4 linked regions of the Homo sapiens genome follow. The protein of the gene in region 3 interacts with the protein of the main gene of each other region in a biochemical or structural test. Each region holds a gene or a part of one and is shown on either strand. Other genes may lie near its edges. The genes, in order: MAPK8IP3, ELK1, MAPK10 and MAPK8IP2.

Region 1 (7,022 bases), on a different chromosome or scaffold from region 3:
CCCATCTTCTTGCCGGTCATTACCACAGTGACTCCCAATGTGCTCTGATAACAGGCAGCTGAGTGTATGAGAGTGACAGGAGCTAGAGAGGGTGGGGTCTCCCGAGAGACTGACCCAAGCCGTGGAGTCTGCAGACCCCAGCCTGAGTGTCAGCCCGGCCCTCAGGAGCCACACACCCTGGGTCCATCCTCTTCCCCTCGCTGGGCTGCAGTGGCCGCGGACTTTGCAAGTCAGTTTCATCTCAAGATCCAAGCACCATCACTGGCTGTTGGTTGCCTGGAGAATTGTGGGCAGGCAGATGTAGCAGAGTCAGGGCAGAACCCTTGACGGGTTCTCAGGGCCGCCGTGGACGGCAGGCACCGGACATTGCTAGCCGCCTACCAGACAGTGCAGTTTCTGGTTGTGCAGGCTCTGATACAAAGTTTTTTAAAACCCTCAAGTTATTTCCCAGTGGAAAAGAAGAAGGTGGGAAACAGCAGCTGAACGGGGTGGGGGCTGGCAAGGAGCAGATGCTGCCTCCACACGCACCGTCCGGTGCAGCTCCAGAGGAGGGCCGGGCAGAGCCACCACGTTTGCCGGGCTTACCCGGGCAGCAAAGAGCCCTTCTCCCATAGTGATCAACTGCTTAGCTTACAAGAGGAAAAATAAGGTGTGAGAGATGACATGTGAATATTAGTGGTCATTATTTGCCTTAAAATCTTCTTAACCCTAAAGAAACTGCTGCTGGTAACACCCCCCAGGCTCATGGCAGGCAGCTGGAGTGGGTGTTCTCTCAACAAGCCCAGATGGTGATGTTTGCTGATCATTCGGCATTTGATGCTATGTAAGGAAAGGATGCAAGGGAAGACAGTTTTATCCAAAACTTATTTTTTCCGAGTTAAATAAAAGTTACCGGCCAGGCGCAGCGACTCTCACATGTGTAATCCCAGCACTTTGGGAGGCTGAGGCAGGCGAGAGATGAGGTCACGCTATGTTGCCCAGGCTGGTCTCAAACTCCTGGACTCAAGCAATCCTCCCACCTCAGCCTCCCAACATTTGACATTGAACTCCTGACCTCCTCATCTCAGGTCAGGAGTTTGAGACCAGCCTGGCGAACCTGGCGAAACCCTGTCTCTACTAAAGAAAAAAAAAAGAAAAAAAAATTAGCCAGGTGTGGCGGCAGGCCCCTGTAGTCCCAGCACTCGGGAGGCTGAGGCAGGAGAATCACTTGAACCCAGGAGGCAGATGTTGTGGTGAACCAAGATCATACCACTGCACTCCAGCCTGGGCAACAAGAGTGAGACTCTGTCTCAAAATAAATAAATAGATAAAAATAAATAAATAAATGTCATCCATTTCATAGACTATTTGGGTAGGATTCAGCTGGAGAAAACAAACACCATAATCCCGCTCTACAGAGATGATCAGTCTGCCATTTTTCCTTCTTTTTTTCTCCTCTGCGCCAGACGATCTGCAGGAAGTCTTTTCCATCAATGAATTAAGATGCTGAATCAGAAATTTTTATTTTTGTTTTTCATATGACAAATAGTAAATCCACCACTGCTTGGCCAGAGTATGCGATTTCTTTTCCTGCCATGTTATGATATTAAGAACAGTTTTTTAAAAAATGTTTTTTAAATGAAGCTATCAAGATGGGGCTGCCAGAGCTGCCTTTCCTAGGTGCCTCTGAAAGCTGGCCTGGTGTAGCTGTACCACTCACCAGGAGTACAGCAGTCTCCCTAAAAAGTGGAGCAAATACATGTAGGAACCATGGAGAAGGAGGTACCTGCCAGCCAGAGAGAACACGGGACAGAGGCCGAAGTGGCCCGGAGGCCGCTGGGCGCAGCCTGCCCCTCTGCCGCTCCGCTGCGGGAGCCCCCGGGCCACGCTGGCAGCAGTCAGACAGGGCCGAGAGCTGAGAGAAGTCAGTTCTTCCAAAATTAAGATTTCTAAATGAAATATCTGTTTCATTTTTACGTTTTTAAAAACCATTTTGAAATATGTACAGAAAGGTTGCAGAATTAACACTCCTCACCCAGCTTCCCAAGTGCAGGCGTCTTCCCACGCTGCTTTCTCTGGCTGTGTAAGGGGCTCAGGGGTCCCTGTGTCCTTGTTGTGTCCTGTGTTCTGCGGTGGCCCCTCGTTCTCTGCTCTTATTGACCTTGACCATTGCGACAACACAGTTCAGTCACTTTGCAGCTGTGCCTCAGTCTGGCTCATGGGCCCTGGGGACCAGATATGGAGCATGTCCTCAGGCCTCAGCAGGAAGACCCATGGCATGCAGAGCCTCCTAGATCCTTAATCTGTGCCAGATGGGCATCAGGTGAGGGGCACAAGATTTTTGGATGGGCCCCTTTCCCAGGTTCCCATTTATTACCAGGGCTGGAGGATGAGCTGTTAGTGCATGAAAATCACTACAGAAGCTTGCCCAGGAGCTGCATGGGGTGCCGGCTCTCCGGACTTGTTTTCCTTTGCCCTGTTGAAAGTTGGGGTCCCAACGCTGGGCGCAGTGGCTCACGCCCGTAATCCCAACACTTTGAAAGGCCGAGGCGGGTGGATCATGAGGTAAGGAGTTCGAGACCAGCCTGGCCAATATGGTGAAACCCCGTCTCTACTAAAAATACAAAAATTAGCTGGGCATGGTGATGCACACCTGTACTCCCAGCTACTTGGAAGGCTGAAGCAGGAGAATCGCTTGAACACAGGAGGTAGAGCTTGCAGTGAGCCGAGATTGCAACGCTACTGCACTCCAGCCTGGGCAATTGAGGGAGACTCCGTCTCAAAAAAAAAAAAAAAGAAAAAAAAAGAAAACTGAGGTCCCGAGCTCCCCTTGTCACCCCAAGTATCTAGCCGCCACTAGGTCCTGGTGTTCTTTTGGCCTCAGGAGTTCTTTTTTTTTTTTTTTTTTTTTCTTTTTTGAGATGGAGTCTCGCTCTGTCACCCATGCTGGAGTACAGTGGCGCAATCTCGGCTCACTGCAAGCTCCACCTCCCAGGTTTATGCCATTCTTCTGCCTCAGCCTCCCGAGTAGCTGAGACTACAGGTGCCCGCCAACACGCCCGGCTAATTTTTTGTATTTTTAGTAGAGATGGGGTTTCACCGTGTTAGCCAGGATGGTCTCGATCTGCTGACCTCGTGATCCACCCATCTCGGCCTCCCAAAGTGCTGGGATTACAGGCATGAGCCATCGCGCCCGGCCAGCCTCAGGAGTTCTTTAATGTCCCCACTTTTCATCTCCTTTGCTGCCTTCTGCTTCCAGTCACCACCATCCCAGGGTCTCCCGGCCACTCCCACCGCCGCCACTTTGCCAGCCCAGAGAACCCTCACAAAGCATATCTGGTCTCTGAGTGCTAGGGTGAATTCCAGGCAGGGGGATTAGCTGATTGCTCTCCTGGGGCAGACTGGACATCTCAGGTGGTGATAACATGAGGGGATCTGAGTGACAAGGTGGGCCAGGACACTGGGTGGACAGAGTGAGGCTGTCTTCCCCAGGTGGCCCCCCACTGGGCCCACCTCTCACCAGCCTCATCTGCCTCTGGTCTTCTGGCTGCCCCCCATTCTGCAGACCTGCAGTTCCTGCCTCCTAGACCACCTGCCCCCACCCCTCCCTCGGGGTTTATCTGGCTAGTTCCCGTCTCTGCCGGATTCGCTGGTGTCTGCCTCCGCAGTGCACCTGCAGAGAAGCCCCCATCACCCACTCTGCCGCCCCTGCCTGGGGAGCTGGGCCCCCACCAGGCCTCTCTCCCGGCTTCCGCAAGTTAAGCTGCTCCCTGCCAACAAGGGGCCGGCACCCTTTGGTTCATTCAGCCTGAGCCTGTTGTTTCCTTTTCTCGGCACACCCGGAGATGCTGGCCATCTGTGTGTGTGGATAAAGGGAAGCCGGCTTTCCTCTGTCTCTGCACACATCTCACCAAACTGTGCAGTTCCGGAAGGTCAAGGACTGTCTCTTTGGAGCAGCCTTTCTGACAGAACGTTCTGGGATGATGGAAATGTTGTATTTGGTGCTGTCCACTTCAGTAGCTGCTGGCCACATAGGGCCGTTGAGCATTTTAGGCATGACTCATGGAACTGAGGAACTGGATTTTTAGTTGTATTTACTTGTTTCGGAGATGAGGTCTCGCCACGTTGCCCAGGCTGGTCTCAAACTTCTGGACCGAAGCAATCCTCCCATCTCAGCCTCCCGAATAGCTGGGACTACAGGCTCGTGCCACCATGCCCGGCTGTGTTTTATTTTAATTAATGTAAACATGTGGCCAGGGCTTCCATACTGGACAGTGTGGCTGTGGGCAGTCTAGCTGAGCTGCCTGGAAGCAAGGGCAGATGGTGAGTTACTCAGCTTCATGCAAGAAAGGAAGATGCTTAAAGGGTGGGTTTGTTTCCTGTTTAATGAACATTTTCCAGAAAGAGGGGAGATCCCGTAGCAGTGGGTTTCAGATACAGGAGACCAGACAGGAGAAAATATTGTGAGATGGGAAAGTGGATGCCAGCAACAGGAAACAGCAGAGAGGGGCTGAAGTTCTCGAAAGGCCAAGAAGAGCCTGGTGGGAAACCGCTCGCACCTCAGGACTGCCTGTGCTCAGGGCACAGGATCGACTTTTTCGCCTTGGGCTGCTTTTTGTTTTCTTTCTGTGGGTAACAATTTTATTGCAGTATCATTGACATACACTGAACTGTACATACTTAAAGAGTACAATTTGATGAGTTTTGAAATACGTATAAACACCAGAAGCCATCCCTGCAGTCCAAGCAGCGTAGACGCCCGGACCCCAGAGTTCCCTGTGTCCTATGTAATCCCCCTCCGACCCCTCCTTGCCCCACCTGTCCCCAGGTAACCACTGACCTGCCTTCAGTCACTGTAGGTTAATTTGCATCTTCTAGAGCTTTGCATAATGGCCTCCTGCAGTGCGTACGTGGTTTCCTCTGACATCTTCCACTCGGTACAGTGATTCGGGGACTCACCCAGGCTGTGTGTGTCCTTCCCCCATGGCCAAGCAGGGTCCCAGCAGTGCCGTTTGTCCATCCGCCTGCCTGCAGGGGAGCTGGGCGGCTTGTTTTTACGTAACCTTCACGCATGAGCGGTTTGTAAGCCCGCTCACCCCGTTGGCAGGGTGTTGGGCCAAGCACTGCTCTGGGGCAGGCTGGCAGTGAAACCCAGAGACTAGAATCCGCTTATGAGGGGGGTGCGTCTTTGCGGAGACCCTTAGAGCCCACAGCATCATTACTCTGGTGCATTTTCTTTTGAGCCACTGTTACGGCAAGAGATCCAGGGCGTGCCACGTGAAACGCGACAGGGCCTTTCCTCAAGACCTCTCCTCCGTGTGGTGCGTTTCTCACACAGGGTCTAGGACATTTCAATTCTTGTTATCAACAACCAGATTCAAAACTTGCCTTTTGTTAAAGTTTCGGGGGGCCCCTTCCTCCCCAGGCCTCTGGGGAGTTTGGGGCTCCTGTTCCCTAACCTTTCCTCAGCCAGCCTGCCCATCACCTTTCCTTCTCCCCAGGAAATGAATTCCCAGATATACGCACAGTCCCAGTGGGCCCTTGCACACGTGTGTCTCTATGTCCCTGCCTCGGGTTAGAGCATTCATGTTTTGAGAGCAGGGACCCTTTGGCTACTGAGAAGAGTGAACTGAGGCACGGTTAGCAGGCCTCTCGTTCAGTGGAACCAGAGGGAGTCGGAGGTTGGGGCTGATTAGGAAGTTTCAGAAGCCAATGTAAACTCCTAAGAATGCACCAGAGAATAAAAGTTTACTTGAGAATAATTTTTCCCAGGGAGATGTTTCATAGGATGGGACACTTAACTTGAGGTTTTGGTTTTATCTTCATTTTTCTTCCGCTGGTACCAACCATATAAATTTATATATATATTTCCCAATACAAATGTATATGTACTAGTAAGACAGATGGGAAATATATATATATCTATTTCCCATCTGTCTTACCCATTCTTGAAATCAGTTCGTATTCAACCAGTTGGGATTTGTTTTACGTGGACACTGAACCCAGCCATCCCTTTCACAGAACGTGAGGAAGCCTTGCTTTTCAACCTGGTTTTTGGAGTCCCGAGCTAGTGGCCAGCTCTCTCAGCCCCACACGTAATACCTGAATGGAGAAATGTCCTTCCCTCGACCCGTGTCCCGTCCAGCAGGCTTCAGGGGCAGCTTTGTAACTCCAGAGCCACCCCCTGCACGTCCTCTCTCTGCATTTTAGACCTAGGTGGCCAGGCAATTGTGGGAAATGGAAAGAGCTCTGACTGCCCCCTGCCAGCCCAGGGTAACCACAGCCATGCGAGGTCCCTGCCCGTACCTGGGAACTAGCCATGAAGGGCATCTGCCAGGCACGTGCCCGGCACCTGTCTGCCTGCTTAAGATAAAAGACCAAAAATGAGCGTTTTTCCTTTGGAAATTCATACTACACCCTCATTCCCAGGGAAGGAAATAAATTGATCGGTATTGCACAAGAACGAGATCTTTGATTCGTGTCAAGATTCGTTTCTAACCAACCAGCCAGAGCTGAATTGTTTCTCGCTGGTGAGCCTGGCCTAACAAACGTATGAGAGGAGAGGTTTGGATTTTTTTTTTTTTTGAGATGGAGTCTCACTCTGTCGCCTAGGCTGGAGTGCAATGGCGTGATCTCTACTCACTGCAAGCTCTGCCTCCCGGGTTCAAGCGATTCTGCCTCAGCCTCCTGAGTACCTGGGATCACAGGCGCCCACCACCACACCCAGCTGATTTTTTGTATTTTTAGTAGAGATGGGGTTTCACCATGTTCGCTAGGCTGGTCTTGAACTCCTGACCTCACGTGATCTGCCCACCTCAGCCTCCCAAAGTGCTGGGATTTCAGGCGGGAGCCACTGCACCGGCCGAGGTTTGGATTTAATGTATTACTTTACTCAGCAGGAAAGTGTCCATGGGTTGTGAAAGTTACCAAAAGCCTGTTGATCGCCCTGTGAAAGAACTTTCCTGGCCATTGCTCTGACATTCTGAGTCCAGAATACTGTCATCTTGATTTTATATTGGACATTAAAAGTCAGTCACTGCGTT
Region 2 (7,915 bases), on a different chromosome or scaffold from region 3:
GGTACTCACAAGGGGCTCAGTAAAGGTTGGTTGCAGGAACAGTCCCAACTAATTAGCTCTCATATCCCTTCTTCTTCCTCATGTGACCCCTACACTGGTGTCTCAAATTATCTTTTTCCCATTTATTCATGGGATAAATTCTTATTGAGCATCTGCTGTTTACCTGGTACATTTTCAGTTGCTGGAGACATAGCGGTGAATGAGCAGACAAAAACTGAGTCCTCATGGGACTCACATTCTAATGAGGAGAGACAGACAACAAACAAGTAACCCACACAGTGTGTCAGACAGTGATAAAGGGCAACGGGACAAATCAGGGACCTGGCTTGAGCCCTGCTGGGTGTGCAGCTTCAGATGGTCAGGGAGGGGTTGACTTTTTTTGTTTTTACAAGTAGCATTGTTAGGAACTTCTTTTTTATACATGTGCCTTTGTATAGTATATTCTAAGTACCATGGTGTGACAATCAACCTTTAATGAAATAACACTACCCAGGTACAACAAAATCAAATCACTCTTAGAAACATCTTTTACGCCTGTGCCTTTAAGAGAGTGTATTACACACACCACAGTGGTTGTTTTTTGGGTTTTTTTTTTTCAGAAAAAGGGATCTCGCTATATTGCCCAGGCTGGCCTGGAACTCCTGGGCTCAAGCTATCCTCCCACCTCAGCCTCCCGAGTAGCTGGGACTATAAGTGCACACCCCTGTGCCCAGCTACACACCACAGTTTTGTGAACACATTCTTTCAATGCAACAACACAGTCCTTATTCACATATACAACTAGCACTCTTAGAAACAGCTTTTATACCTATGCCTTTACAGAGCATATTACGTACCTCAGTCTTGTGAACACATCCTTTTGAAAAGGAGGAAAACCCTTACTCATATATAAACTGGCATTCTTAGAAACATCTTTCATACATGTATCTTTTTATACTGCATTCCACACACCACAGTGTGGTAAACATCCTTTGGGGGTTGGTATTTGAACAGAGTGCTGAAAGGAACCATGCAGAGATCTGGGGGTGGTGTTCAAGGCACAAAGAACAGCCAATGCAAAGGCCCTGAGGCTGGCCCATGCCTGCTATGTTTGAGGAGCTGTGTGGTGGAACCAGTGTGGTTGGAGCACAGTAAGGGGGTGGGAAGGTATAGGCGGTAATGCTAGAAAGGTTACTTGTTTTACCATTAATTCACAGTTAATATTTATTTACACTGGAAGGGATTCTAGTTCTGATCCCCCATTTCACAAATGAAGAAAAAGGCACAGAGAGGAAGTGGTTAAATCACTCATCTAAGGTCACACAGCTGCTGGGATTGGGGGGTGGGTGGGTGCTGAGAGAAGGTGAGGAATGAAGACTGCTCTGCAGGCAGAGGGAACAGCAAGAACAAAAGCTTGGAGGTGAGAACTAATTTGGTTTTTAAGGACTGAGGCCTCACGTGGGGTGGGATGAGATCTAAGAGGGGAGCCTCAAAAATTATCCTGTGTCCTGAGTACTTCCTGGGCCACCTTTGAGTAAGGAATTTAACCTCCCTATGGCCCAATTCCCTCACTACCTATCTCATGGGGTTGTGGTGAGGATTAAAGGAACTCATTCATATGAAACACTCTGCCTGATATACGGCAGGTGCTCAATAAACGCTAGCTCCTATTGGCATTACTATCATCACTGGCGCTAATGTATTCACTTATTGTAGTGAGGCAGAACGTCTTTGTGGTTACGAGTGTGACCAGGCTGACCCACTATTAAGAGGTGGAGGACAGGGAAGGCCGTACAGTGCTCCATCACAAGGAAAAGAGGATCAGCACGTTCTCTTCTGGGAAGGGAAAAAAAAAGAGAAGGAAATTGAAAGTACACGGCCGATCTTCCCCCAATTACAAAGCACTGGACTCACGGGAGGGTATGCGGGGGACTGTGCAAGCATACAGGGGTGTGGGGGAGGAAGGCCAATGAACAGATCCACTGCAAAGGGAGGGGTGATGAGGCTCATCGTCTGAGGGGAAGGGGAGCAGAAAACCTTACAGACTCCTGCACCACAGTGAGAGGAGAGAAAAGCCATCACACAGACTGATTCAAAGCAGAGAGGGAAAAGGCTATGGACTGAGCTACTGAAAATAGGGAGATGTAAAGCACTAAACTAACCCACTATTAAAAAGGAGAGAACCCCAAGCGCTAGAGCGACAGTCTACGAAAAAGAGGAGACAGGGCAATGGACTGATAGCTAAAGGGACGTGAATCCAAACATGAAGACTGATCCACTATAAAATGGTGGTGGTGGTGGTGGGGGGGGGGGGTGGTTTTGAAAAAAGCCATGGACTGATGCATTGGGGGACTGGAGGAGGCAGGAATACAAACTCAGGTAGACTCACTGTTAAAGAGGGATGCGGAGGAGTGCGGCGCCACGGATTGATTCGCTACGATGTACAGGAAGGGTGGAATAAATAAGGCCACGGACGGGTCTCCTGAAAGTTGAGGCTAGGAGAAATCCAAACACTCAGATACACCTACTATTAAGGGGGCTGAACACTGTCACAGGCTAGCTCCCTATAAGTGGGGGTGGGTGGGGGGCGGGTGGGGGTAGGGGTAGGGGGAAAGCCTATGGACGAGTCCACCCTAAGTTGGCGTGGGGAAAAACATAAGCACGCAGACCGATCCATTATACAACGGGAGGGGGAGGTTAGGCCACGGTCAGATCCACTATAAGGGACGAAGGGCTTGAGCAATGCCACACGCAGGTCCACCAGCCGTGGTGGTGGCGGCGGGGAGTCGAACACCAGCAGGCCACCGGCCAAGCCACATCCTCTGCGCGGGGGCGGGAAGGATACGTGGGGTCACGGACTGGGCCCTCCACCCTCCAGGCCCAGAGCTCACCTGTGTGTAGCGTGGCGGTGGCGTTGGCAATGTTGGCAGCTCCGGGGGGCGGGGGCTCCATACGCGGCCCCACCGCCCCCCAGGCCTGGGTTCCGAGGCGGCGGTGGAGGTGGTGGTGGCGGTGGCGGCGGCAGCACCTAGAAGCCGCCCCTGCGTTTCCCTACAGCTCACGTGGGCCCGAGGAGGAGGAGCCCAATGTCCCGCCGCTCGCTGATTGGCCAAAGCGCTATTAATCGGCCGCAAGGCCTCGAGGGGTTGGGGGACGGGCCCTTCCCTACAGAGCTGTGCCGTGATTGGCGTAAGGGGAAATGATGGAACGCTCACGGCCCCTGGAGTCCCGAGGAGGCGCGTTCGGCCTTCACGGTGCTCCACGCCGATTGGCTCAAGGACTGACGGACTGTGAGCAACTGAAAAGGCTCGGGGCCTGTGTCGGGGGGGCGGGGGTCTGCCTCACACTGATTGGCTTACATGGGATTGATGGAAGACAGCCCCCAAGGACGGGGGTGGGTGGCCCTGTTTTTCTCTGATTGGCGGACGAGGGACTTCTAGACCCCTGCCAAAACACCAAGGGGGCGGTGTCGCACGCCATGCTGCTCAGCGGAAGCAGGGCTTGTATAGAAATGGGCGTAGCAGCCGGCGGGAGTGGGTCGGACTGGGCTCCGCGTAGGCGGGCAGGGCAGCTCTACGGTTAGACAAGACCATAGAGCTGGGTAAAGACGAATTTAGAACACAGCGGAGGTAGGAGGGCAGGATGGCTGTCAGGCACACGAAAGAGCATTGAGTGGCAGAAACGAAATGCTTTCAGAGGGCAGGGTTGAACTGCGGCCAGAGTTAAAAAGGGGAGGAACCTGGCTCTGCATTGATTGGCGGTGGCTGGACTCAACCTAGAATAGGGGCCCGACTAGGGAGAGCGGGATCCAGGTCTGTGCCCATTGGAAGCTGGAACACTTACAAGCAGGGGCTAAGACAAGGTAGGGCTGAGTTAGGGTTTGGGTGTAATTTGGGGTACCTGGGGAATGATTGGGTGTGTGAAAGCGTAAACCTTAGGGCCCTTTGATTGTTGTGGGAATGAACAAACCTCCACCATGAATTGGCCCATTCTCTATGGCAATTCAAAGGGTGGCGTCTAGGAAAAGGAATGGAAGAAAGGGTGAGGTGGGGGGCCCAGGTTGCCAAGATGACAGAAGAGAGGGCAGTGCATAAGGTCAACTGGCAAATACTGCCAGGCAACAGGCTGGAGGCAGGACTGCTGGGGCATTTTGGAGGTTCCACAGAGAGACTGGATCTCTGGGTCTCTCAGTAACTTTGTGCCCTAGGAACAGGCCCCCGTGGCAACTAGCAGGGTTTATGGGGAAAAAGAAGGGCCATGTGACTCAAAGGCATTCAGGCTCTTTAATGTCTGAGGATGGGGGGAAGAAGTCAATGGTGAGGCTTCTCTGGGAAATTCTGCAGGCCTTGTAGTTCTCTAAGCCCCTGAAAAAGAGGACAGAAGAGATTGAACAAAGACTGGGTCTGGGTTACGCCCCCAGGCTTGCTCTGACCTCCCTCCCTTGACTCCAGTTTAGAGGGAAAGATGGTCCTTCCCTTCTTTCGCTCTCTTCCTTCTTCAGGTCACCACCCTAAACACAGAGTCTGGTAGTGGGGTGAGCTGCTCTCACCTCTAGCAACATGTGGATATGGGCTTTGATATTCATGGAGTCCTTGGTGAGGCTGTTGCTGAGCCTAGAGAAAAGAAACAAGAAAGGGCAAAATGGGCCCCACATGATTATGATGACCCTTCCTTATCACTTCAAGATCTACTTATATCCTGGATGATTTCCACCTGGCTCATTCCTATGTGGAAATGCCAAGCCACCATCTGGTTTTCACTGATTCAAAGATTATTAAATGCCTACTGTATGCCAGGCAATTTTAGGCACTGGGAGATAGCAGCAAACACAACAAACAAAACTCCCGGCCTGATGGACTTCAAATTCTTGTAAAGAAAGACATAACAAAAAACCAATGGAATAAAAGCTATGTGTCAGATGGTTCTAACTACAATAACAAAAATTAAAAATGAGAGACAATAAGGAGTACAGGAGTGGGGGGCTGCAATTTTAAAGAGGGCTCAGGGATGGCTTCACGGAGAAGCATTTGAGTAAAGACTTAAAGACAGTGAATTTTGAGTAGTGTGGCTATATGGAGGATGTGTTCCACACACAAGGGGCAGCAAACACAAAGGCACTGAGGTGGGAGTGTGCCTGGCATGTTTGAGGTGCAGCAAAGAGGCCACTCTGGCTGGAGAAGAATAAGTGAAGGGGGAATGTAAGAGGTGAGGTCAGAGAGGTAATGAGGGAGACAAACTGTGTGAAGCCTACAAGGCCATGGTAAGGACCCTGGCTTTGACCTTAAGTGAGATGGGAGCCAAGGGAAGGTTGCAGCAGAGGAAGGAGGTTGAATTACATGAACCAGTCAGTTGACTCCTTTTCTCTAAGCCAGTTTGGATCAGATCTCGCCCAAAAGAATCCTAATTGATATAAAGGGTCAAGGAAGGCCTTTCTCAAGAATGAAGAATGAGAAGGAATCGAAGAATGCCTAATGGTTAAGCAGTAGGAAGGCCTTTTCCACAAAAAGGACAAGAGGCAACAAAGAGCTGTTTGAGAAGCAGTGAGGTCAGAGTGTTAGAAATTGAGTGGGGAGGGAAAGTGGCCTAAGACAAGGTCCAAGAGATAGGAAGAGGTTAGATCACACAGGGTCTTAATATAATAAGGAATGTGGATTTTATTGTGCTGTCAATGTAGGAGTCAGTTTGAGGGGTAAATGAAACTAAATACTGTTGGAAAAGCAGAGAGCAATAAGATAGGATGTTAAATTGGAAAAAAAAGTAGTATGAACCCATGTATATACCAATATCTCCCACATTTTTATTTCTAGCCCAGAACTCTCTCCTGAACTTGACTAGTTTTAATGACATCTTCTAAAAATCCACTTCAGTGTTTAATAAGTGCCTCATACTTAACAGGTTCCAGACTAAATTCCTGACCTTCCCCTCCAAATCTACTCCTCCCCTAACTTCTCCATCTCAGATAATGGCAACTCCATCCCTCCAGTTGCTCAGCCAAAAACCTGGGCTCCTCTCTCTCACACTTCACATCCAGTCAGCCATTCTTCTTAAAATCATGACTGTTCCATTGCAGGTAATGCTTCTGATCTCCATGATATGCTTTCTCCATAGCACTGTCAACATCTGACATACTACATCATTCATTTGTTTATTGTTTGTCTCCCCTGACTAGAATGTCAGCTGTATGAGGGCAGATTTTGTTTTTTTTTGTTTCCTGCTCTATCCCCAGGGACCAGAACAGTGTGTGGCACAGAGGAGGCACCCAACGTATGTTGAATGAATAAGTGACTACTCCATTAAAAGGAACCTGAGGTTGGCTGAGTGTATGTTTAGGGACAGGAAATAAATGAAGTATGGGTGTTGTTGCCAGAGAGCAAGAATACTTTCAAGAATATTCTGGGGGTAATGCTTAAAGAACAGAAGAATGAACCTGATCAGCTCCTAAGGGACAATTTTAACATCAAAAAAGAGAACAAAATTAGTTAATGGTGTAAGCTTACCTTATGAAAACCTATGAGTTCAACACTTTAAAAGGGAGAAAAATACAGAGTTCACCAAATGCTAGCTGTAACACAAAAGGGATATGTTTATTACTGCTGATTTATTTTTATTTGCTATGTGAGAAGCAAATTACTACTGATTTAGTATGTAAGGCAGTGTGAATAGTCATATGGTTATGCTTTTTTTTTTTTTTTTGAGATGGAGTCTCACTGTGTCGCCCAGGCTGGAGTGCAGTGGCGTGATCTCGGCTCACTGCAACCTCCACCCTCCGAGTTCAAGCGATTCTCCTGCCTCAGCCTCCTAAGTAGCTGGGATTACAGGCGCCTGCCACCGTTCCCGGCTAATTTTTTGTATTTTTAGTAGAGACGGGGTTTCACTATCTTGGACAGGCTGGTCTTGAACTCCTGACCTCGTGATCCACCCACCTCGGCCTCCCAAAGTGCTGGGATTACAGGTGTGAGCCACCGCGCCCGGCCGTTAGGCTGTTTCTTCTATAATTACATGTCTATTCATGAGATGTGGATGTGTACTCCTTTCTGTGTCATCAGGAAAGAATATAGAGATTTCATCCCTTCCACTTCCCAAACAAAGAAATATACTAAGAACAGGAAGAACTGACACTTTTGATCACATAAAATGACCAGAAAGTTAGTTCAAAGTATATCCCAAGTAACCAAATATTTTTAAAGGACAGCCAGCTACATAGACTCAAATCTTCATCTCTTAGAAAAATTAAACTTCTAGACAGTCCTACTAATTACAATAAAGCAGTAAGACTCAACCATATTTTTCATCACACTAACAGACCAGGTCAGTACATCAAAAAGACCAGGCAAGGGGGCAGGCACTGACAATTTAAATACTTCATTTTGGGGAAGTACGTGGAGTCTCAAAACATTAAAATCTATTTGATAGGCTCAGGAATCCTGTGACATAACAAGGAAAGCCTTCTTATACAAACTAGACTTTAGCTGGGCGCGGTAGCTCACACCTGCAATCCCAGCACTTAGGGAGGCTGAGGTGGGCAGATCATCTGAGGTCGGAGTTTGAGACCAGCCTGGCCAACATGGCAAAACCCTGTCTCTACTAAAAATACAAAAATTAGTCGGGAGTGGTGGTGGGTGCCTGTAGTCCCAGCTACTTGGGAGGCTGAGGCAGGAGAATCCCTTAAGCCCAGGAGGCAGAGGTTGCAGTGAGCCAAGATCGCACCACTGCACTCCAGCCTGGGCGACAAGAGCAAAATTCCGTCTCAAAAACAAAGTGGACTTGGTCTAAATGACCACCAGTTCAGAATTGTGTTGACCATGAAAGCAGGCCGTTTAATTAAACTATTTGCTAATTGGTCTGAACACCAAGAATCAGAAATCTCAGCAGGTCTGAGGTTCTTTTGGGTCCACTAGCACCTGCTAGTCCTTCCCATGGCTGGAAAGGTTTGAAA
Region 3 (7,022 bases):
CTTTCTATTTCCTCTTACAGTCTCTTTTAAGCTTTTGGTTGGACATTGCAACAATCATGCAGAAAGAGGCACGGAAGTGTCCAGTAGTGACAAGAATGGAGTACAATGCTCTATTTGCTGCAGGACTGCTGAGTGCCTTCCTCCTACCACACATGCATCTATTATTGCACCTTCTTCTGAGGACCAAGGACTTGTGGAAAAAGTTGGGCCTATAGACTAGTAGGGGAGATGCTTACTGGTAAAGAAGAACAGAATCCATTTGCTTCTTTGGCATATTGGATATATTTATTGCATTACATAAGCCTGAGATGAGACACTGTACTGCTGATTCAGATAAAAAGATCATGCTGCATATTGATTGTTTAAAAAATGTAACTTAGAATTGGAGCCCATCTTTTCAGAAACCTGTACGTGTTTGCAGAGTGAAGTTGTAAGGTTTTGACTCAAGATTTTTCAGTTTGAGTACATTTTATCCTCATGAACCGATCAAGGCAAAGAAGGGGAAAATACAAAACCTGTGTTTTGCATATCTTTTGTTTTCTGTATTTAATAGGGAGAAGCTGTATTTCTTATTGTGAATCTTGGTAGAAACTCTTAAGAGGAGACATCAGGTAATATTGAAAATCACTAAATATAAACATTTTAGGTTTAAAAAGTAGACCTCACACATATACTATTTCTGGTAAAGGATTTTCTAGTTTATTTGATGTTTTGGATCCATATCAAGCCACTATGGCTTTTCTTACAGTTCTTATCTCTGGTGACTATGAGATGTAAAATCCTTGAGGCTTATGGAAATAATGCTAGTAGGAATGGAAATTGAAGTTTTCAATGGAAAAAGAAATGAATACAGTCTCCTGAGAAGCATCCCTAACCACAGCTGCTCTAAAACCCTGCATGGTGTGCAGGTTTAAGGCAAAGCTTCCCTATAAGGCAATTGGGCATTTGCAGTGACCTGCACAGTAATAAACAGGATTTTCACTACCTTGTGTTTGTACACGTGTGTGTGTGTGTGTGTGTGTGTGTGTGAAGAAAAACAAAAACAAAAACAGCAGTGACTTTAAAGTTCTAGAAATTCATCTTAGTGACTTGTCTTCATAGAAATAAAACTGACTCCTGTTTGTCTGTGTTAACCTGCCTGGGTGCCCTATGTGCTTTCTGAAAATGGATTGCTTAAAGCAATTGTCCTCTTCTTATACATTGGAAATAGGATCTGAAAGCATTGATAGTGAAGGAAAGCTCTTAGGTTAGGTCTGTTTATTTGGCAATGTTTATTCAGTGTTTGTAGGCGGAAGCTCCAGCACAGCATTTATATAATATAGTAATTGCCTATTCTTCTATTACCTGTATTCTCTACTAAGGTTTAATCCCCATCAGGGACTGACTTTTTCTGTTTGGCACACAATAGGGACACACCAAATATTCATTGAATGAATATCTCTCATGTACTGAGTTCTCTGCTAAGTGCTATGGTAGAAAAAATTGGGAAACTGTAACACAGTTTCTGCCATTTGGAACCTATACTCATTTGGGAAGATGAGGCTAAATAACAATAAAGATGGTATAAAATCAAGGGCCCATATTAGTGTTTTGATAATGAGTGCAATAGAAATTCAGAGGAGAAAGGAATTTACCTCCTCTGAAGTGATGGTAGGTGACAATGGGGCTACACTGGGGTGTTGGGGTGAGGTGGTGGGATAGTGAGAGGGTGGTAGTCCTAGGAGTAATTGTGAGCACCTGGGCAGGAAAGAAACTCTTACTTGGGGTAAAGAGGAGGCCTATTTTGGGTATGATGACCATATTTTCCAAACTAGAAATAAAAACTTATGGTTTGACATTGGGTAGAATGTTGCAGACTGCCACATATTCTGAAGAATCTTGTCTAATATAATGTTGGGAAGTAACAGGCTATAATGGTGAAAAAGTAGGTTAGTAACTAGAAGAACATAAATACAGGTCTCTTCAGATGAGCTCCAGCTTAGGTTTACTTTCTTTTGCATACTTCAGAGGTTTTCAAAATTCTCCTCCTTTATTGGTACCTATGTAACCATTGTTCCAATGAAATCTTGTATGAAAAGCAGAATATGTAAATCTATGTAATAGTGGAGCTGTCCCAGTTGAGGATGAGTGGGGTGCCTTGTATTAGAAAACCAAATTCATATCACAAGACTAATTATATTAACTGAAATAAGAATTACTAATTTAGTTTATGCTCAGATATTAAAATAGTTGTTCTGGTATTATAACATCAAAGTTCTTGTGCTTGCAATAAATGATGAATAGAGATAATTACCTTGAGATATTTTCTTTCCTCTGCCTACACTCACCCACCCAGTAACCAACTGTCTTTGATGTCAGCTTTTTGGTTTTCTAAATACAAATTTAAATCTTAAAATCAAACTCATCTGTTTTTTGGCTTTGCTTTCAGGCTAGTGTGAGAAACACCAACAGCAGGCCCATCTCAGATCTTCACTATGGCAACTTATGCAAGAAACTGTTGAATTAGACCCGTTTCCTATAGATGAGAAACCATACAAGCTGTGGTGAGTTGCCAATTTAAAAATATTCCTTAGCATGAAAACTAGGATCTATATAGCCAATTTAAATATTGCATATGGTTTTGTACATGGAGCTGGAGAAATACTGCTCCAAATAATTTCGACTACAGAAGTGAAAATCAATAGAACAGAAGTTTAATAGTTGGTGTGGTACTACTAATACCACATACAGTAGTGAAAAGTCTTGAGGTGCATGGGTGCAGCATATAACACCATGATACTACCACCATGGATGATACCTGCAATTAACATTTTCATGTGGCAGAGTAACAGTTGGGTACCATTATTTTTAAGTGACTTTTATTATTTGCAACATTGTACTATATTTTACAGATTCATCTCCTTTAGTAGAAAAATTGGTTCTGAGCTAAATTATGGTTTTCTTTCAGGAACACACACACACACACACACAATTTAGCTCTTCTGAAATAAGAGAAGAGAAATCACAGTTTTATAAAACTCAATTCATGGGCATTTTAGCCTACAAATCCTTTTGCTTAACAAAGCAATGTTAAAAATAGATACAGTTGCTCTGCCTAGTTGGAATGACTTTAAAACTTATTACTTTATAAAAATATCAGCACACACAGGTAGAATGTCTTTTTAAATCAAATACTTGATGCTTCATAGTCACCAAAGTCAATAATCAATAGATTCCAGCAGAGATGAACGAGTTATAATCTGTCAAATAACATCTTTGAGAACTAGAGTATGACTGTGGTGCTTATAAGACTCCAAAAGAAGCTATTTTGAGCTAGTGATCAATATCTTTCTTTCATTTGCCTAGTGGCTTATATAACTGTAGATAGGTAGGCTGCCCTGTGAATTAATGCACAGCCTATGACTGCGGAAGACTGATGAAATTAATCCTAGAGTTATTTCATATAGTGAATTTATAAAACAATTCATAAAAAACAATCCATCTACCATTATATTGAGAAAGCAGATCTAATAGCATCACTATACTGTGCTTAATTAACATGTATTCAATGAGCGTTATAAATAATTTTATGCAATTGCCAATAACAAACTATTTTTGACCTAAAATAAGGGCAATTTTATATGGTTGAAACTAATATATTATGTGTTACTCCCAGTGATGTAGAAAGCATACCATGTTCTCTCCATTCTGAATATTAATTCATTAATCAAACTCTTATTGAGAATCTGTGATGTAGGTAGAATGTTTAGCTTTTGGGGCAGATAAAAGACAGTCCTTGCTTTAAAGGAGCCCTCAGTCTAAAGAGTGGGGTACTTACAATAAAATGTGCTTATTAATGGAGGTAGTTGTGTTCTAAAGAGTGTGGCACTTACAAAGTGCTATTACATGGGTAGGTCTAGAGTGCCAAAGGAAGTGCATCAGAGGAGACTCTACCACGGATGTGGTAGAGATTAGTCAAGGAAGACTTCCCAGAGGAAGGGATCTTTTGGTGGACTATTAAGCACAGTGAAAGGATAGCCAGAGGAAGGGAGGATGCAGTGCACAGTGGGAACATTTTTTAACAGACCCAGAAGCCTGAGAGAGCATGATTGTGTGGGAATACTAGGTATCATTTACTATGCTGAAGCAGAAATGGTAGTGGCAGAGATAAAGTTGAAGAGGGATACAAGACATGTGCCATGAAGGATCTCTTAGACAAAATTAAGGAGTTTGGATTTTGTTTCAAAGTGAAGAGCTTTTGAAAGATTTTAAATAGGAGATTGACATAATCAGTTTATTTTTTAATTGTGAAATATACCATACGCATAGAAGAGTGTATAAAACAAATACTGGTTAAAGAATAATTATAAATCAAACATCATGTAAACAAATCAAACAACATAAAACAAATCAAGTAAATCAAACATGATGTAATAGACTCCCAGCAAACCCCTATGTGTCCCTTTCAGATCACATACTTTTCCTTCCCCACCATAGGTAACCGCTAGCTACTATCCCACCTTTTGTCATGCACATTACCTTGCTTTTCTTTGTAGGTTTTCCATCTATCTGTGCATCTCTAGGCTATGAATCTTAGTTCTGCCTATGCTTCAGCTCCATGTATTTGGAGTTACAGCATGTATACTCTCAATCACCTGATTATTCTGCTAACATTGTGAGATTCTTTCATGTTCATGCATGTAGTTTATTCATGTAAATTGTTGTATAGTATTCTATTGTATCAATATGCCAATATTTACTTATCTAGTCTATTGTTGTTGAACATTTGGATTAAATCTATTTTACTTAATGCTAGTATAAATATAAATATAATATCATTTTTATGTTTATATATATTAGTTCTCATAGTTTCTGATATTTACCGTTTTCTAGGATAAATAGCAAGGGAAGGAACTGCTGAGTTTTGGGGTATGTGCGCCTTTAATTTTACTAAATAATTCCAAAATATTTTCCCCAATCAGTTGCATCAATTTACATTCCCAGCAGCAGTATATGAGAAACTCTGCATTCTCACCAACACTTGATTTACAAGTTCTTAAATTTTGCTAATCAGGTAGATACATAATTGTACTCATAAAAGTATTAATTTGCATTTTGCTGATTACTAATGAAGAAGAGCATCTTTCCATTTTTTGTTTTTTGGTAATTTGATTTTCGTCTTTTGTGAAGTACCTGCTCAAATCTTTTTGAGATGTGTCTTTCAAAATGATAACTAACACTTATTGAGTTCTCACTGTGTAATAGGCACTATAGTAAGTACTTTACAAATAGTTCATCTTCCTAGTATCCCTGTAATTTAGAGGTAAGGAAACCAAGGTTTAGAGAGGTTAAATCAGTTGCTGACAATCACATAGTTAAGGAACAGTGGACTTAGCATTCAAGCCCAAGTCTTTCTGACTCCAGAATTCTTCAGTTTCTCGGTGTTTGGAAGGGGATTTGGTTGGAACCAGGGAGAACATCTAAGGTGCTATTGCAGGAATCCAGTTAAAAAAATAAGTGCATAAACCAAAGAATTGCTAGTAGGGCATATGTAACAAACAACTGGACTTGGTAATGAATGTGGTGGGCAAACAAGAGGAAGGATTTTTAAAGTCTCAAGTTTTAATACCTGTCGGCTAGGTAGATTCAATATTTGTCATAAAATGTGTGTGTGTGTGTGTGTGTGTGTGTGTGTGTTTGTGTATACACACTGTATATATATATACACACACACATTGTATGACTAATGTTGTAATATATTGTCATCCTTTGTACATATATTGTACAATACATTGTCATATATATATTGCGTGTGTGTGTGTGTATATATATATATATAAAATACAGATATTGTGGTAGGTACTAATAATTCATTTTATAAAGTCCAGGTATTGTAGGTACTAAGAGTACATTTTGTGAATCTACAATTCAATGAGATGAATTTAGTTCACAGGCTCATAAATTTTAGGGTTTAAAGCAATGACACTGTTCATTTGGGTCAAATCTTCACTTTTTTTTAAAGATATGGAAGCAACTGCTAAGGAGGGTAAGTGGCTTGTCCAAGATCACATGTTTCTAAGTGTCAGGTTAAGAATAGATACGATGCCTGCAAAAAAATGCAAAGAAATAACAACCACCTGATTTTTAAATTAACGAGTGATGACACAATCAACCTATTCTATTTCCTAACCATTTCTCAGACAAGTCCTTTTTCATCTAAATCTGTTGTTACTGCCATAATTTAGGTCCTCATCATCATCTTTGGCAGGTTTATTTAAGTAGCCTAGCATACTATCTTCTTGTCCATTATTCTACCAGTGAAGCCACCAGACTTGTTATTTGATTTGCAGTTGTTACCGTATAATTGCCCTACTTAAAGAATTTTCAATATACTCTGTCATCCATGTAATAACTTCCCTTTTCCTTAAGACATGCCATACTTCTGGCCAGGTGGGTGGCTCAAGCCTTTGTAATCCCAGCACTTTGGGAGGTCAAGGCTGGTGGATCAGCTGAGGTCAGGAGTTTGAGACCAGCCTGGCCAACATGGTGAAACCCTGTCTCTACTAAAAATACAAAAATTGGCCAGACGTGGTGGCTCACGCCTGTAATCCCAGCACTTTGGGAGGCCGAGGTGGGCGGATCACGAGGTCAGGAGATCAAGACCATCCTGGCTAACACGGTGAAACCCCATCTCTACTAAAAATAGAAAAAATTAGCTGGGCATGGTGGCGGGTTCCTGTAGTCCCAGCTACTTGAGAGGCTGAGGCAGGAGAATCACTTGAACCTGGGAGGCAGAGGTTGCAGTGAGCCGCGATCGTGCCACTGCACTCCAGCCTGGGCGACAGAGTGAGACTCCGTCTCAAAAAAAAAAAAAATTATCTGGACATGGTGGTGGGCACCTGTAATCCTAGCTACTCAGGAGGCTGAGGCAGGAGAATCGCTTGAACCTGGGAGGCAGAGGTTGCATTGAATCGAGATTGCACCACTGTACTCCAACCTGGGCGACAGAGCAAGACTGTCTCGCACACACACAAAACAAAAAA
Region 4 (7,022 bases), on a different chromosome or scaffold from region 3:
GAAGAGGCCTGGGTGGTGCAGAGAGGGTGACCCCACCTCCCTGCCCAGCAGAGCTCCCGGGCCCCCTCCCTGCCACGGACACCGGGCCCGGCGGGGCGCAGTCGCCAGTGCGCCCGGGTTGCGACTGCGAAGGGAACCGGCCTGCGGAACCCCCTGCGCCAGGGGGGACTTCGCCCTCCTCAGATCCCGGCATCGAGGCTGACCTGAGAAGCCGCTCGAGCGGCGGCCGCGGGGGACGTCGCAGCAGCCAGGAGCTGTCCTCGCCCGGCTCCGACTCGGAGGACGCGGGCGGCGCGCGCCTGGGGCGCATGATCTCGTCCATCTCGGAGACGGAGCTGGAGCTGAGCAGCGATGGCGGAAGCAGCAGCAGCGGCCGCTCCTCGCACCTCACCAACTCCATCGAGGAGGCCTCGTCGCCCGCCTCGGAGCCGGAGCCCCCGCGCGAACCCCCGCGCCGCCCCGCCTTCCTGCCCGTGGGCCCCGACGACACCAACAGCGAGTACGAGTCGGGGTCGGAGTCGGAGCCGGACCTCAGCGAGGACGCGGACTCGCCCTGGCTGCTCAGCAACCTGGTGAGCCGCATGATCTCCGAGGGCTCCTCGCCCATCCGCTGCCCCGGCCAGTGCCTGTCTCCTGCGCCGCGCCCGCCCGGGGAGCCCGTGTCGCCGGCCGGCGGGGCCGCCCAGGACTCCCAGGACCCCGAGGCGGCCGCGGGGCCCGGCGGCGTGGAGCTGGTGGACATGGAGACGCTGTGCGCGCCGCCGCCGCCCGCGCCCGCCGCGCCTCGACCCGGCCCCGCGCAGCCCGGGCCCTGCCTATTCCTCAGCAACCCCACGCGTGACACCATCACGCCGCTGTGGGCCGCGCCCGGCCGCGCCGCCCGCCCGGGACGAGCCTGCTCCGCCGCCTGCTCCGAGGAGGAGGACGAAGAGGACGACGAGGAAGAGGAGGATGCCGAGGACAGTGCGGGGTCCCCCGGGGGCAGGGGCACGGGCCCCTCGGCGCCGCGGGACGCGTCGCTGGTGTACGACGCGGTCAAGTACACGCTGGTGGTGGATGAGCACACGCAGCTGGAGCTGGTGAGCCTGCGGCGCTGTGCTGGGCTGGGCCACGACAGCGAAGAGGACAGCGGCGGGGAGGCCAGCGAGGAGGAGGCGGGCGCGGCGCTGCTAGGCGGCGGTCAGGTCTCGGGGGACACCTCGCCGGACAGCCCTGACCTCACTTTCTCCAAGAAGTTCCTCAATGTCTTCGTCAACAGCACATCTCGGTCCTCCAGTGAGTGAGAGGTGGGGAAAAGGGGGGTGGCCCAGAGGAAGGTGCAGACTCCCTGGCCCCAGTCCCAGGGTCCCCCACAGTGCCCAGGGCCACCTGAGGGTCTGGCTGTGGTCAGGGCTGGGTGCCCTCTCCCACCCAGGACATGGCATGAGGTGGCCTGCTCTGCCTCAGCTCCTTCCCGCTCGTAGGACACCTACACCGGACTGTGGAGGGGACTTGGCCTCTGCCCAAGGCCAGGCCTCTAAGCACTACTCTGACTCTGTCTCCCTGTCTCCCCCGCCTCTGTCCTGCCGGGTCTCCCAGGCACCGAGTCCTTTGGCCTTTTCTCCTGTCTGGTCAACGGCGAGGAGCGAGAGCAGACTCACCGGGCTGTGTTCAGGTACGGCCTCCCTCCTTGCTGGCGGTGGCCCCAGCCTCAGTCCCTGCCATCACGGAACGCCAGTGGACACGACCGTCAATCCCGCCCCCCTCCCCAGTGACCTCTCCCCCAACGGCAGGTTCATCCCGCGGCATCCAGACGAGCTGGAGCTGGATGTGGATGACCCTGTGTTGGTGGAGGCCGAGGAGGACGACTTCTGGTTCCGTGGCTTCAACATGCGCACGGGGGAGCGCGGTGTGTTTCCTGCCTTCTACGCCCATGCGGTGCCCGGCCCTGCCAAGGACCTGCTGGGTGAGGTCCCAACCCCGAGGGGAGGCTTTTCACCCCAGATCCTCCCCTGTGCCCCTGCCTGACCTGGGCCCTCTGTGCCCCGCTCCCCAGGGAGTAAGCGGAGCCCCTGCTGGGTGGAGCGCTTTGACGTGCAGTTCCTGGGCTCCGTGGAGGTGCCCTGCCACCAGGGCAACGGCATCCTGTGTGCAGCCATGCAGAAGGTCAGTGTGGAGGCCGGGCAAGTGCAGGCTGAGGGTCCGCTTGGCGGCCACACCAGCACTGCAGGCTGGCACAGGGCTTGAGGCTCCAAGGTCTGAGGTCTGATTTCCTCCAGGGAGGGTCTGGGGGATGCTGCAGGGGGAGCTCGGGGTGGGTACCCCAGGCCCTGGTTCAGAGGCCTGAGCAGGTGAGTCTAGGGCAGAGCACAGCAGCTGTCCCTCATCACCTCTGGGTCTCTGGGCCACAGATCTTCCAGGTGGCCCCGACTGCCATCAGCCCTTCCTCTTCCCATCTGGAATCAAGACCAGCCCTCACAGCCCCTTCCCTGGGAGCCCTCTACTCATCCACTCACTCAGTGGACGTTTAGTGAGCACCTGCCCAGGCACCAGTACTGAGGCTGAGGCTGGGGGGCAGTAGGGAGCAGGGCAGAGCAGCCCAGGGCGGGTGAGGTCTCTGTTCCTGGCTCCTGAGCCAAGCGCAGCAGCCTGCCTGGAGGAGCAGAAGGAAGATGAAGCAAGCTGACTGCAGAGAGGCGATTGCTCCTCCTGAGCCTGAGGAGTGGCCAAGGCCACACCCCTTATGTCTTCCAGAATTGCATCTCAGGGTCCTCAGCATGTGTGTCCTCAAACATAAGCTAAAAGGAGCAGAGGCGTAGTCCCACCAAGGGGAAAGAAAGGCCCTTGTGGGCTCCTCAAGACCCTCTTCTCCCCCAACTTCTTCTGTAGATTGCCACTGCCCGGAAACTGACCGTCCACCTGCGCCCTCCTGCCTCCTGTGACCTCGAGATCTCTCTTCGGGGGGTCAAGCTGAGTCTGAGCGGAGGAGGGCCCGAGGTGGGAGTGTGGGGGACTGGGGACCGGGGACTGGGGGATAGGGTTAGGCCACGGAGTCCGACGGGGCCAGGCTGGCAGGGGTGTCCAGTAGGTGGGAGGCAGGGGTGGCGCCAGGCCTCCTTTGACACAGGGACTTCTGCCCACCTCTGCTCTAGTTCCAGCGCTGCAGCCATTTCTTCCAGATGAAGAACATCTCCTTCTGCGGCTGCCATCCCCGCAACAGCTGGTGAGAGTCTGACCGTCCCCGAGTCCCCCAACCGCCCCCACAAACCCTGAGAGTCCAACCGCCCCCTGAGTCCCCACAGACCCTGAGGGCTGCCCGTGCCCAGCCCTGAGAGCTCCACCTGCACCCACTTAGCTCTGTGAGCTGAGCCTGCAGTGGCGCCTGCTCTGAGCTGGACTCAGGAGGCGTGGGTCAGACAGGCTTGCATCCAGTCTGGGTGGAGAGAGGCACACGGGCGAAGGATGTGAGAAGCCTGTGTGGGTGCAGAGGACGCCTGAGTGGGCCTGGGGCTCAGGATGGCCAGCCTGGAAACACAGCAGGTGACAGCGGTGGGGAAGTGGATCTTCCTGGTGGGGTCTAGCTGAGCCAAGGGTGTGGGATGCACTGGTCGGGGGCTATATAGGCTCTGGGGCCCGCGTGTAAGGGGAGCAGCTAGAAATGCCGGGGAAGACCTGGACCCTTTTGATTATGCCAAGGAGCTGTACTTAATCTTGCTGGTAATGAGGCCATAGAAGGCTCCTAATGGAAGGAGGTGACACAGGGGACCTGGGGGCTGCTGAGGTTATACAGGTGCTATGTCCTGAGACCAAGTGTGCAGATGCAAGAGGCACTGAAGAGGCAGTACAGGCAGGACCTAGGTTGACCGGCTGTAGAGGGTGACCTGGAAGAGACCAGGGTGACGTCTCCCTGGGGGATGGTTGTACTGCAGCCCACACACCGAGAGGGGATGCGGGATCAATCACAAACGGTGAGACTGAAGTGGCCGTTGGTCCCATGGGTCTGGAGTTTAGGAGGGAGACCTGGAGGGAAGATACCAGGTCAGAGCAGGTAGATCACTGAGACGAGAGGGGAATGGCCAGGCAGGGTGAGGGGAGGAGGGGAGGAGGAGGTGCTGGCATAGGAGCAGCAGGCCAAGGGGGGCTGCCAGCTTCCCTCCAGGCACAGGCCCCTGCCCTCTGTGTCCCAGCACCCTAGAGGAAGGAGATCTGGGAGGAACCAGAGAGGCAGAGCCAGCCAGAGGCTGGAAAGGACTTGCGGGGAGTTGGAGGAAGCAGGCTCACAGACAGGCAAGACACAGCAGGGCACGGTGCTGCCAGGACTGAGGCGTGGGACAGACGTCAGTGCATCTTGGGGGCCTTGTGGACTCTCCCTGTGGTCGAGAGTGAGGGTGCTGCCTGCTGGAAGGTGCGGAGCCCTTTTGTGTTGTCCCCGCCGAGTGCAGAGATGGTCTGATGGGATCCATGCGGAAACGCTGCTCAGTGGGGTGGAGAGGTGGGACAGCGGGCAGCGATGCAGACCAGACTGCGGGGCCAGCTCTGGGGTGGAGAGGTGGGACAGCGGGCAGGGGCGCAGACCAGACAGCGGGGCCAGCTCTGGGGTGGAAAGGTGGGACAGTGGGCAGGGGCGCAGACCAGACAGTGGGGCCAGCTCTGGGGTCACCAGGACAGCGAACGGGGCGCAGACCAGACAGCAGGGACAGCTCTGGGGTGGAGAGGTGGGACAGCGGGCAGGGGCGCAGACCAGACAGCGGGGCCAGCTCTGGGGTGGAGAGGTGGGACAGTGGGCAGGGGCGCAGACCAGACAGTGGGGCCAGCTCTGGGGTCACCGGGACAGCGAACGGGGCGCAGACCAGACAGCAGGGACAGCTCTGGGGTGGAGAGGTGGGACAGCGGGCAGGGGCGCAGACCAGACAGCAGGGACAGCTCTGGGGTGGAGAGGTGGGACAGTGGGCACGGGCGCAGACCAGACAGTGGGGCCAGCTCTGGGGTCACCGGGACAGCGGACGGGGCGCAGACCAGACGGTGGGGCCAGCTCTGGGGTCACTGGGACAGCGGACGGGGCGCAGACCAGACAGTGGGGACAGCTCTGGGGTCACTGGGACAGCGGACGCTGCCAGGAGAGGAAGAATGACCCAAATTTCTCATCAGAAGGAAACTGGGTGAAGCTCAGGTCTCAGGCTGGACAGGGCCCCAGCTAGAATTTCGTGAGAGGAAGGTGGTCAGTCGAGTTTGGGGTTTGGAGTCAAGATGTGGCAGGGGTGTGGGAGGAGGTGGAGGAGCTGCTGCCCTGGCCCAGACCTTCCTAATATTTGTCACCCCAGACCCCCCGTCCCCGGTCCCTTGCCACGAGGAGGCACGGACGAAACCGTGTGAGGTGAACGATGAACTCGTTTCTTCATGGCGGTGGTGGTAGGTCAGGAGAGCGTGGGGTGTGCTGTGTTGGGATCTGGCATTAGGATGTCTGGTGTTGGGATCACAGACTGTAGCCTTTTCTCCCAGGGCTGCCCATCCTGCCTGTGTGTCCTGGGCAAGCTCCTGAACCTCTGTGCCTAGCTCTCCATCAGGGCCCTACCTCAGAGGGCTGTTGTGAGGCTTCTGTGAGTTAATGGAAAGGGCAGAGGATGGTGCCTGAGTAATGCAGGAAGCCAGATCTGTGGGTCGGCGCTTATTACCATCATGACTTGAACGCGGCATTTGAGGCGGGCCCTGTGCTCTGTCTGTGGACAGCGTGCACACACTGTCCTGGCAAGCAGACCATCATGTGGCTTCCCATTTGGTGGAATCGCAAAGCCCCGAAGCCATGGGGGAATGGACGGGTCGGCCAGTTTCAGGGGTGGGGGTGGGGCAGCGTCCTGCTGCAGAACTCTGCCTGCCTCTCCCTCTGGACGACGATTTTTGATTTTTGCTAATGTCTGGGTGGAGGAGCTGGGCAGTGACTCCATGAGCGAGGCCCCGCAAGGAGCTGCTTTCCAGTGGGAGCGAGGGGTAGACCGGAAGAGGGTTTTACAGACCAGGGGTAACGTCCAGCCCCACCTCGGAGCTGGGCAAGGGGCTGTCAGTCTGCTAGGCCCGCAGGAGGAGGCCTGAGTTGGCAGGAGATATGGTCTCCAGTAGCCAGGCAGAGGCCTTGCTCTGTGGTCCTGGGGCAGGCCCTGAATAGGGCCACAGAGGGTAGCAGCACCGGCTCAGAGAAGGGAGAGTGGACGCCCCTGGTCATCATGGAATTAACTCAGAGCGTGAACTCTTGGTAGGTGCCCAGCCCTGTGCTTGGGCTGAAACCAAAAAAAGACAACTTCAGATCTTGAAATTGTGCGACCCCCACACTCCTGTCCCTTACCCTCTCCCCAAGCCCTTTGTTCCTGCCTCTTCTCTCTACATCATTTGTGGGGTGGCCAAGGCTGGGCCAGGGCTCTGACGTGCCCTCCACACTGACTTGCCCGCAGCTATTTCGGCTTCATCACCAAACACCCCCTGCTGAGCCGCTTCGCCTGCCACGTCTTTGTCTCCCAGGAGTCCATGAGGCCGGTGGCGCAGAGTGTGGGGTGAGTGGGGCCCCAGGGTGTGGGTGCAGAATGGGTGCAGGGTTACGGAGGTGGGGAGCGGAGGTGAGCAGGTGGGGGCAGGAGCCTGGCAGGGGAGGTCTGGGGAAGGAGAACCAGATGTGCTGTGTAGAGAGGGCAGTGGTGGGTGACAGTTTGGGGTGCTGGGCATGGGGTGGGAACAGGCACAGACACATGGCCCAGGCACTCTGGCAGGGGTAGAATTGCTGGGCCAGGAGAGCTGAGGGTCACACTTGGGGGTGACATGGCCATGCCTGGGTGGGGGGTTATGGATGGCTGCAGAGGGAGGAAGGAGGGAGAGCTCAGAGGCTCTGTGGAAGGCAGTTTGGGGGTTGAGGACCGGCCCTGAGTGGCTGGTGGAGGACCGTCTTTCCCCAGCCGCGCCTTCCTGGAGTACTACCAAGAGCACCTGGCGTACGCCTGCCCCACGGAGGACATCTACCTGGAGTAGCCTGCCCACCGCTCTGTCTCCTGGCCGTCTGC

The links.
Region 1: the proteins of MAPK10 (region 3) and MAPK8IP3 form a complex in vitro, tested with the Homo sapiens proteins (3 studies listed by BioGRID, with this or other methods).
Region 2: of the proteins of MAPK10 (region 3) and ELK1, one has a biochemical effect on the other in vitro, tested with the Homo sapiens proteins (one study listed by BioGRID).
Region 4: the proteins of MAPK10 (region 3) and MAPK8IP2 form a complex in vitro, tested with the Homo sapiens proteins (one study listed by BioGRID).

The regions. Positions count from the first base shown.
Region 1 is NC_000016.10:1,709,183-1,716,204, forward strand, and holds part of MAPK8IP3 (C-Jun-amino-terminal kinase-interacting protein 3), read left to right. Parts: intron 1-4,346; exon of another isoform or gene 4,347-4,605; intron 4,606-4,819; exon of another isoform or gene 4,820-5,009; intron 5,010-7,022.
Region 2 is NC_000023.11:47,647,553-47,655,467, forward strand, and holds the start of ELK1 (ETS domain-containing protein Elk-1), read right to left. Parts: upstream 3,012-7,915; 5' UTR 2,871-3,011; intron 2,475-2,870; 5' UTR 2,369-2,474; intron 1-2,368. Other genes in the region: protein UXT, read right to left, coding at 4,290-4,343, 4,529-4,592. UniProt on the Homo sapiens protein: Transcription factor that binds to purine-rich DNA sequences. Forms a ternary complex with SRF and the ETS and SRF motifs of the serum response element (SRE) on the promoter region of immediate early genes such as FOS and IER2.
Region 3 is NC_000004.12:86,350,051-86,357,072, reverse strand, and holds part of MAPK10 (mitogen-activated protein kinase 10), read left to right. Parts: intron 1-2,428; 5' UTR 2,429-2,543; intron 2,544-7,022. UniProt on the Homo sapiens protein: Serine/threonine-protein kinase involved in various processes such as neuronal proliferation, differentiation, migration and programmed cell death.
Region 4 is NC_000022.11:50,603,790-50,610,811, forward strand, and holds part of MAPK8IP2 (C-Jun-amino-terminal kinase-interacting protein 2), read left to right. Parts: intron 1-48; coding exon of another isoform or gene 49-51; coding exon 52-1,275; intron 1,276-1,578; coding exon 1,579-1,654; intron 1,655-1,772; coding exon 1,773-1,945; intron 1,946-2,035; coding exon 2,036-2,145; intron 2,146-2,868; coding exon 2,869-2,976; intron 2,977-3,131; coding exon 3,132-3,202; intron 3,203-6,422; coding exon 6,423-6,521; intron 6,522-6,917; coding exon 6,918-6,990; 3' UTR 6,991-7,022. UniProt on the Homo sapiens protein: The JNK-interacting protein (JIP) group of scaffold proteins selectively mediates JNK signaling by aggregating specific components of the MAPK cascade to form a functional JNK signaling module.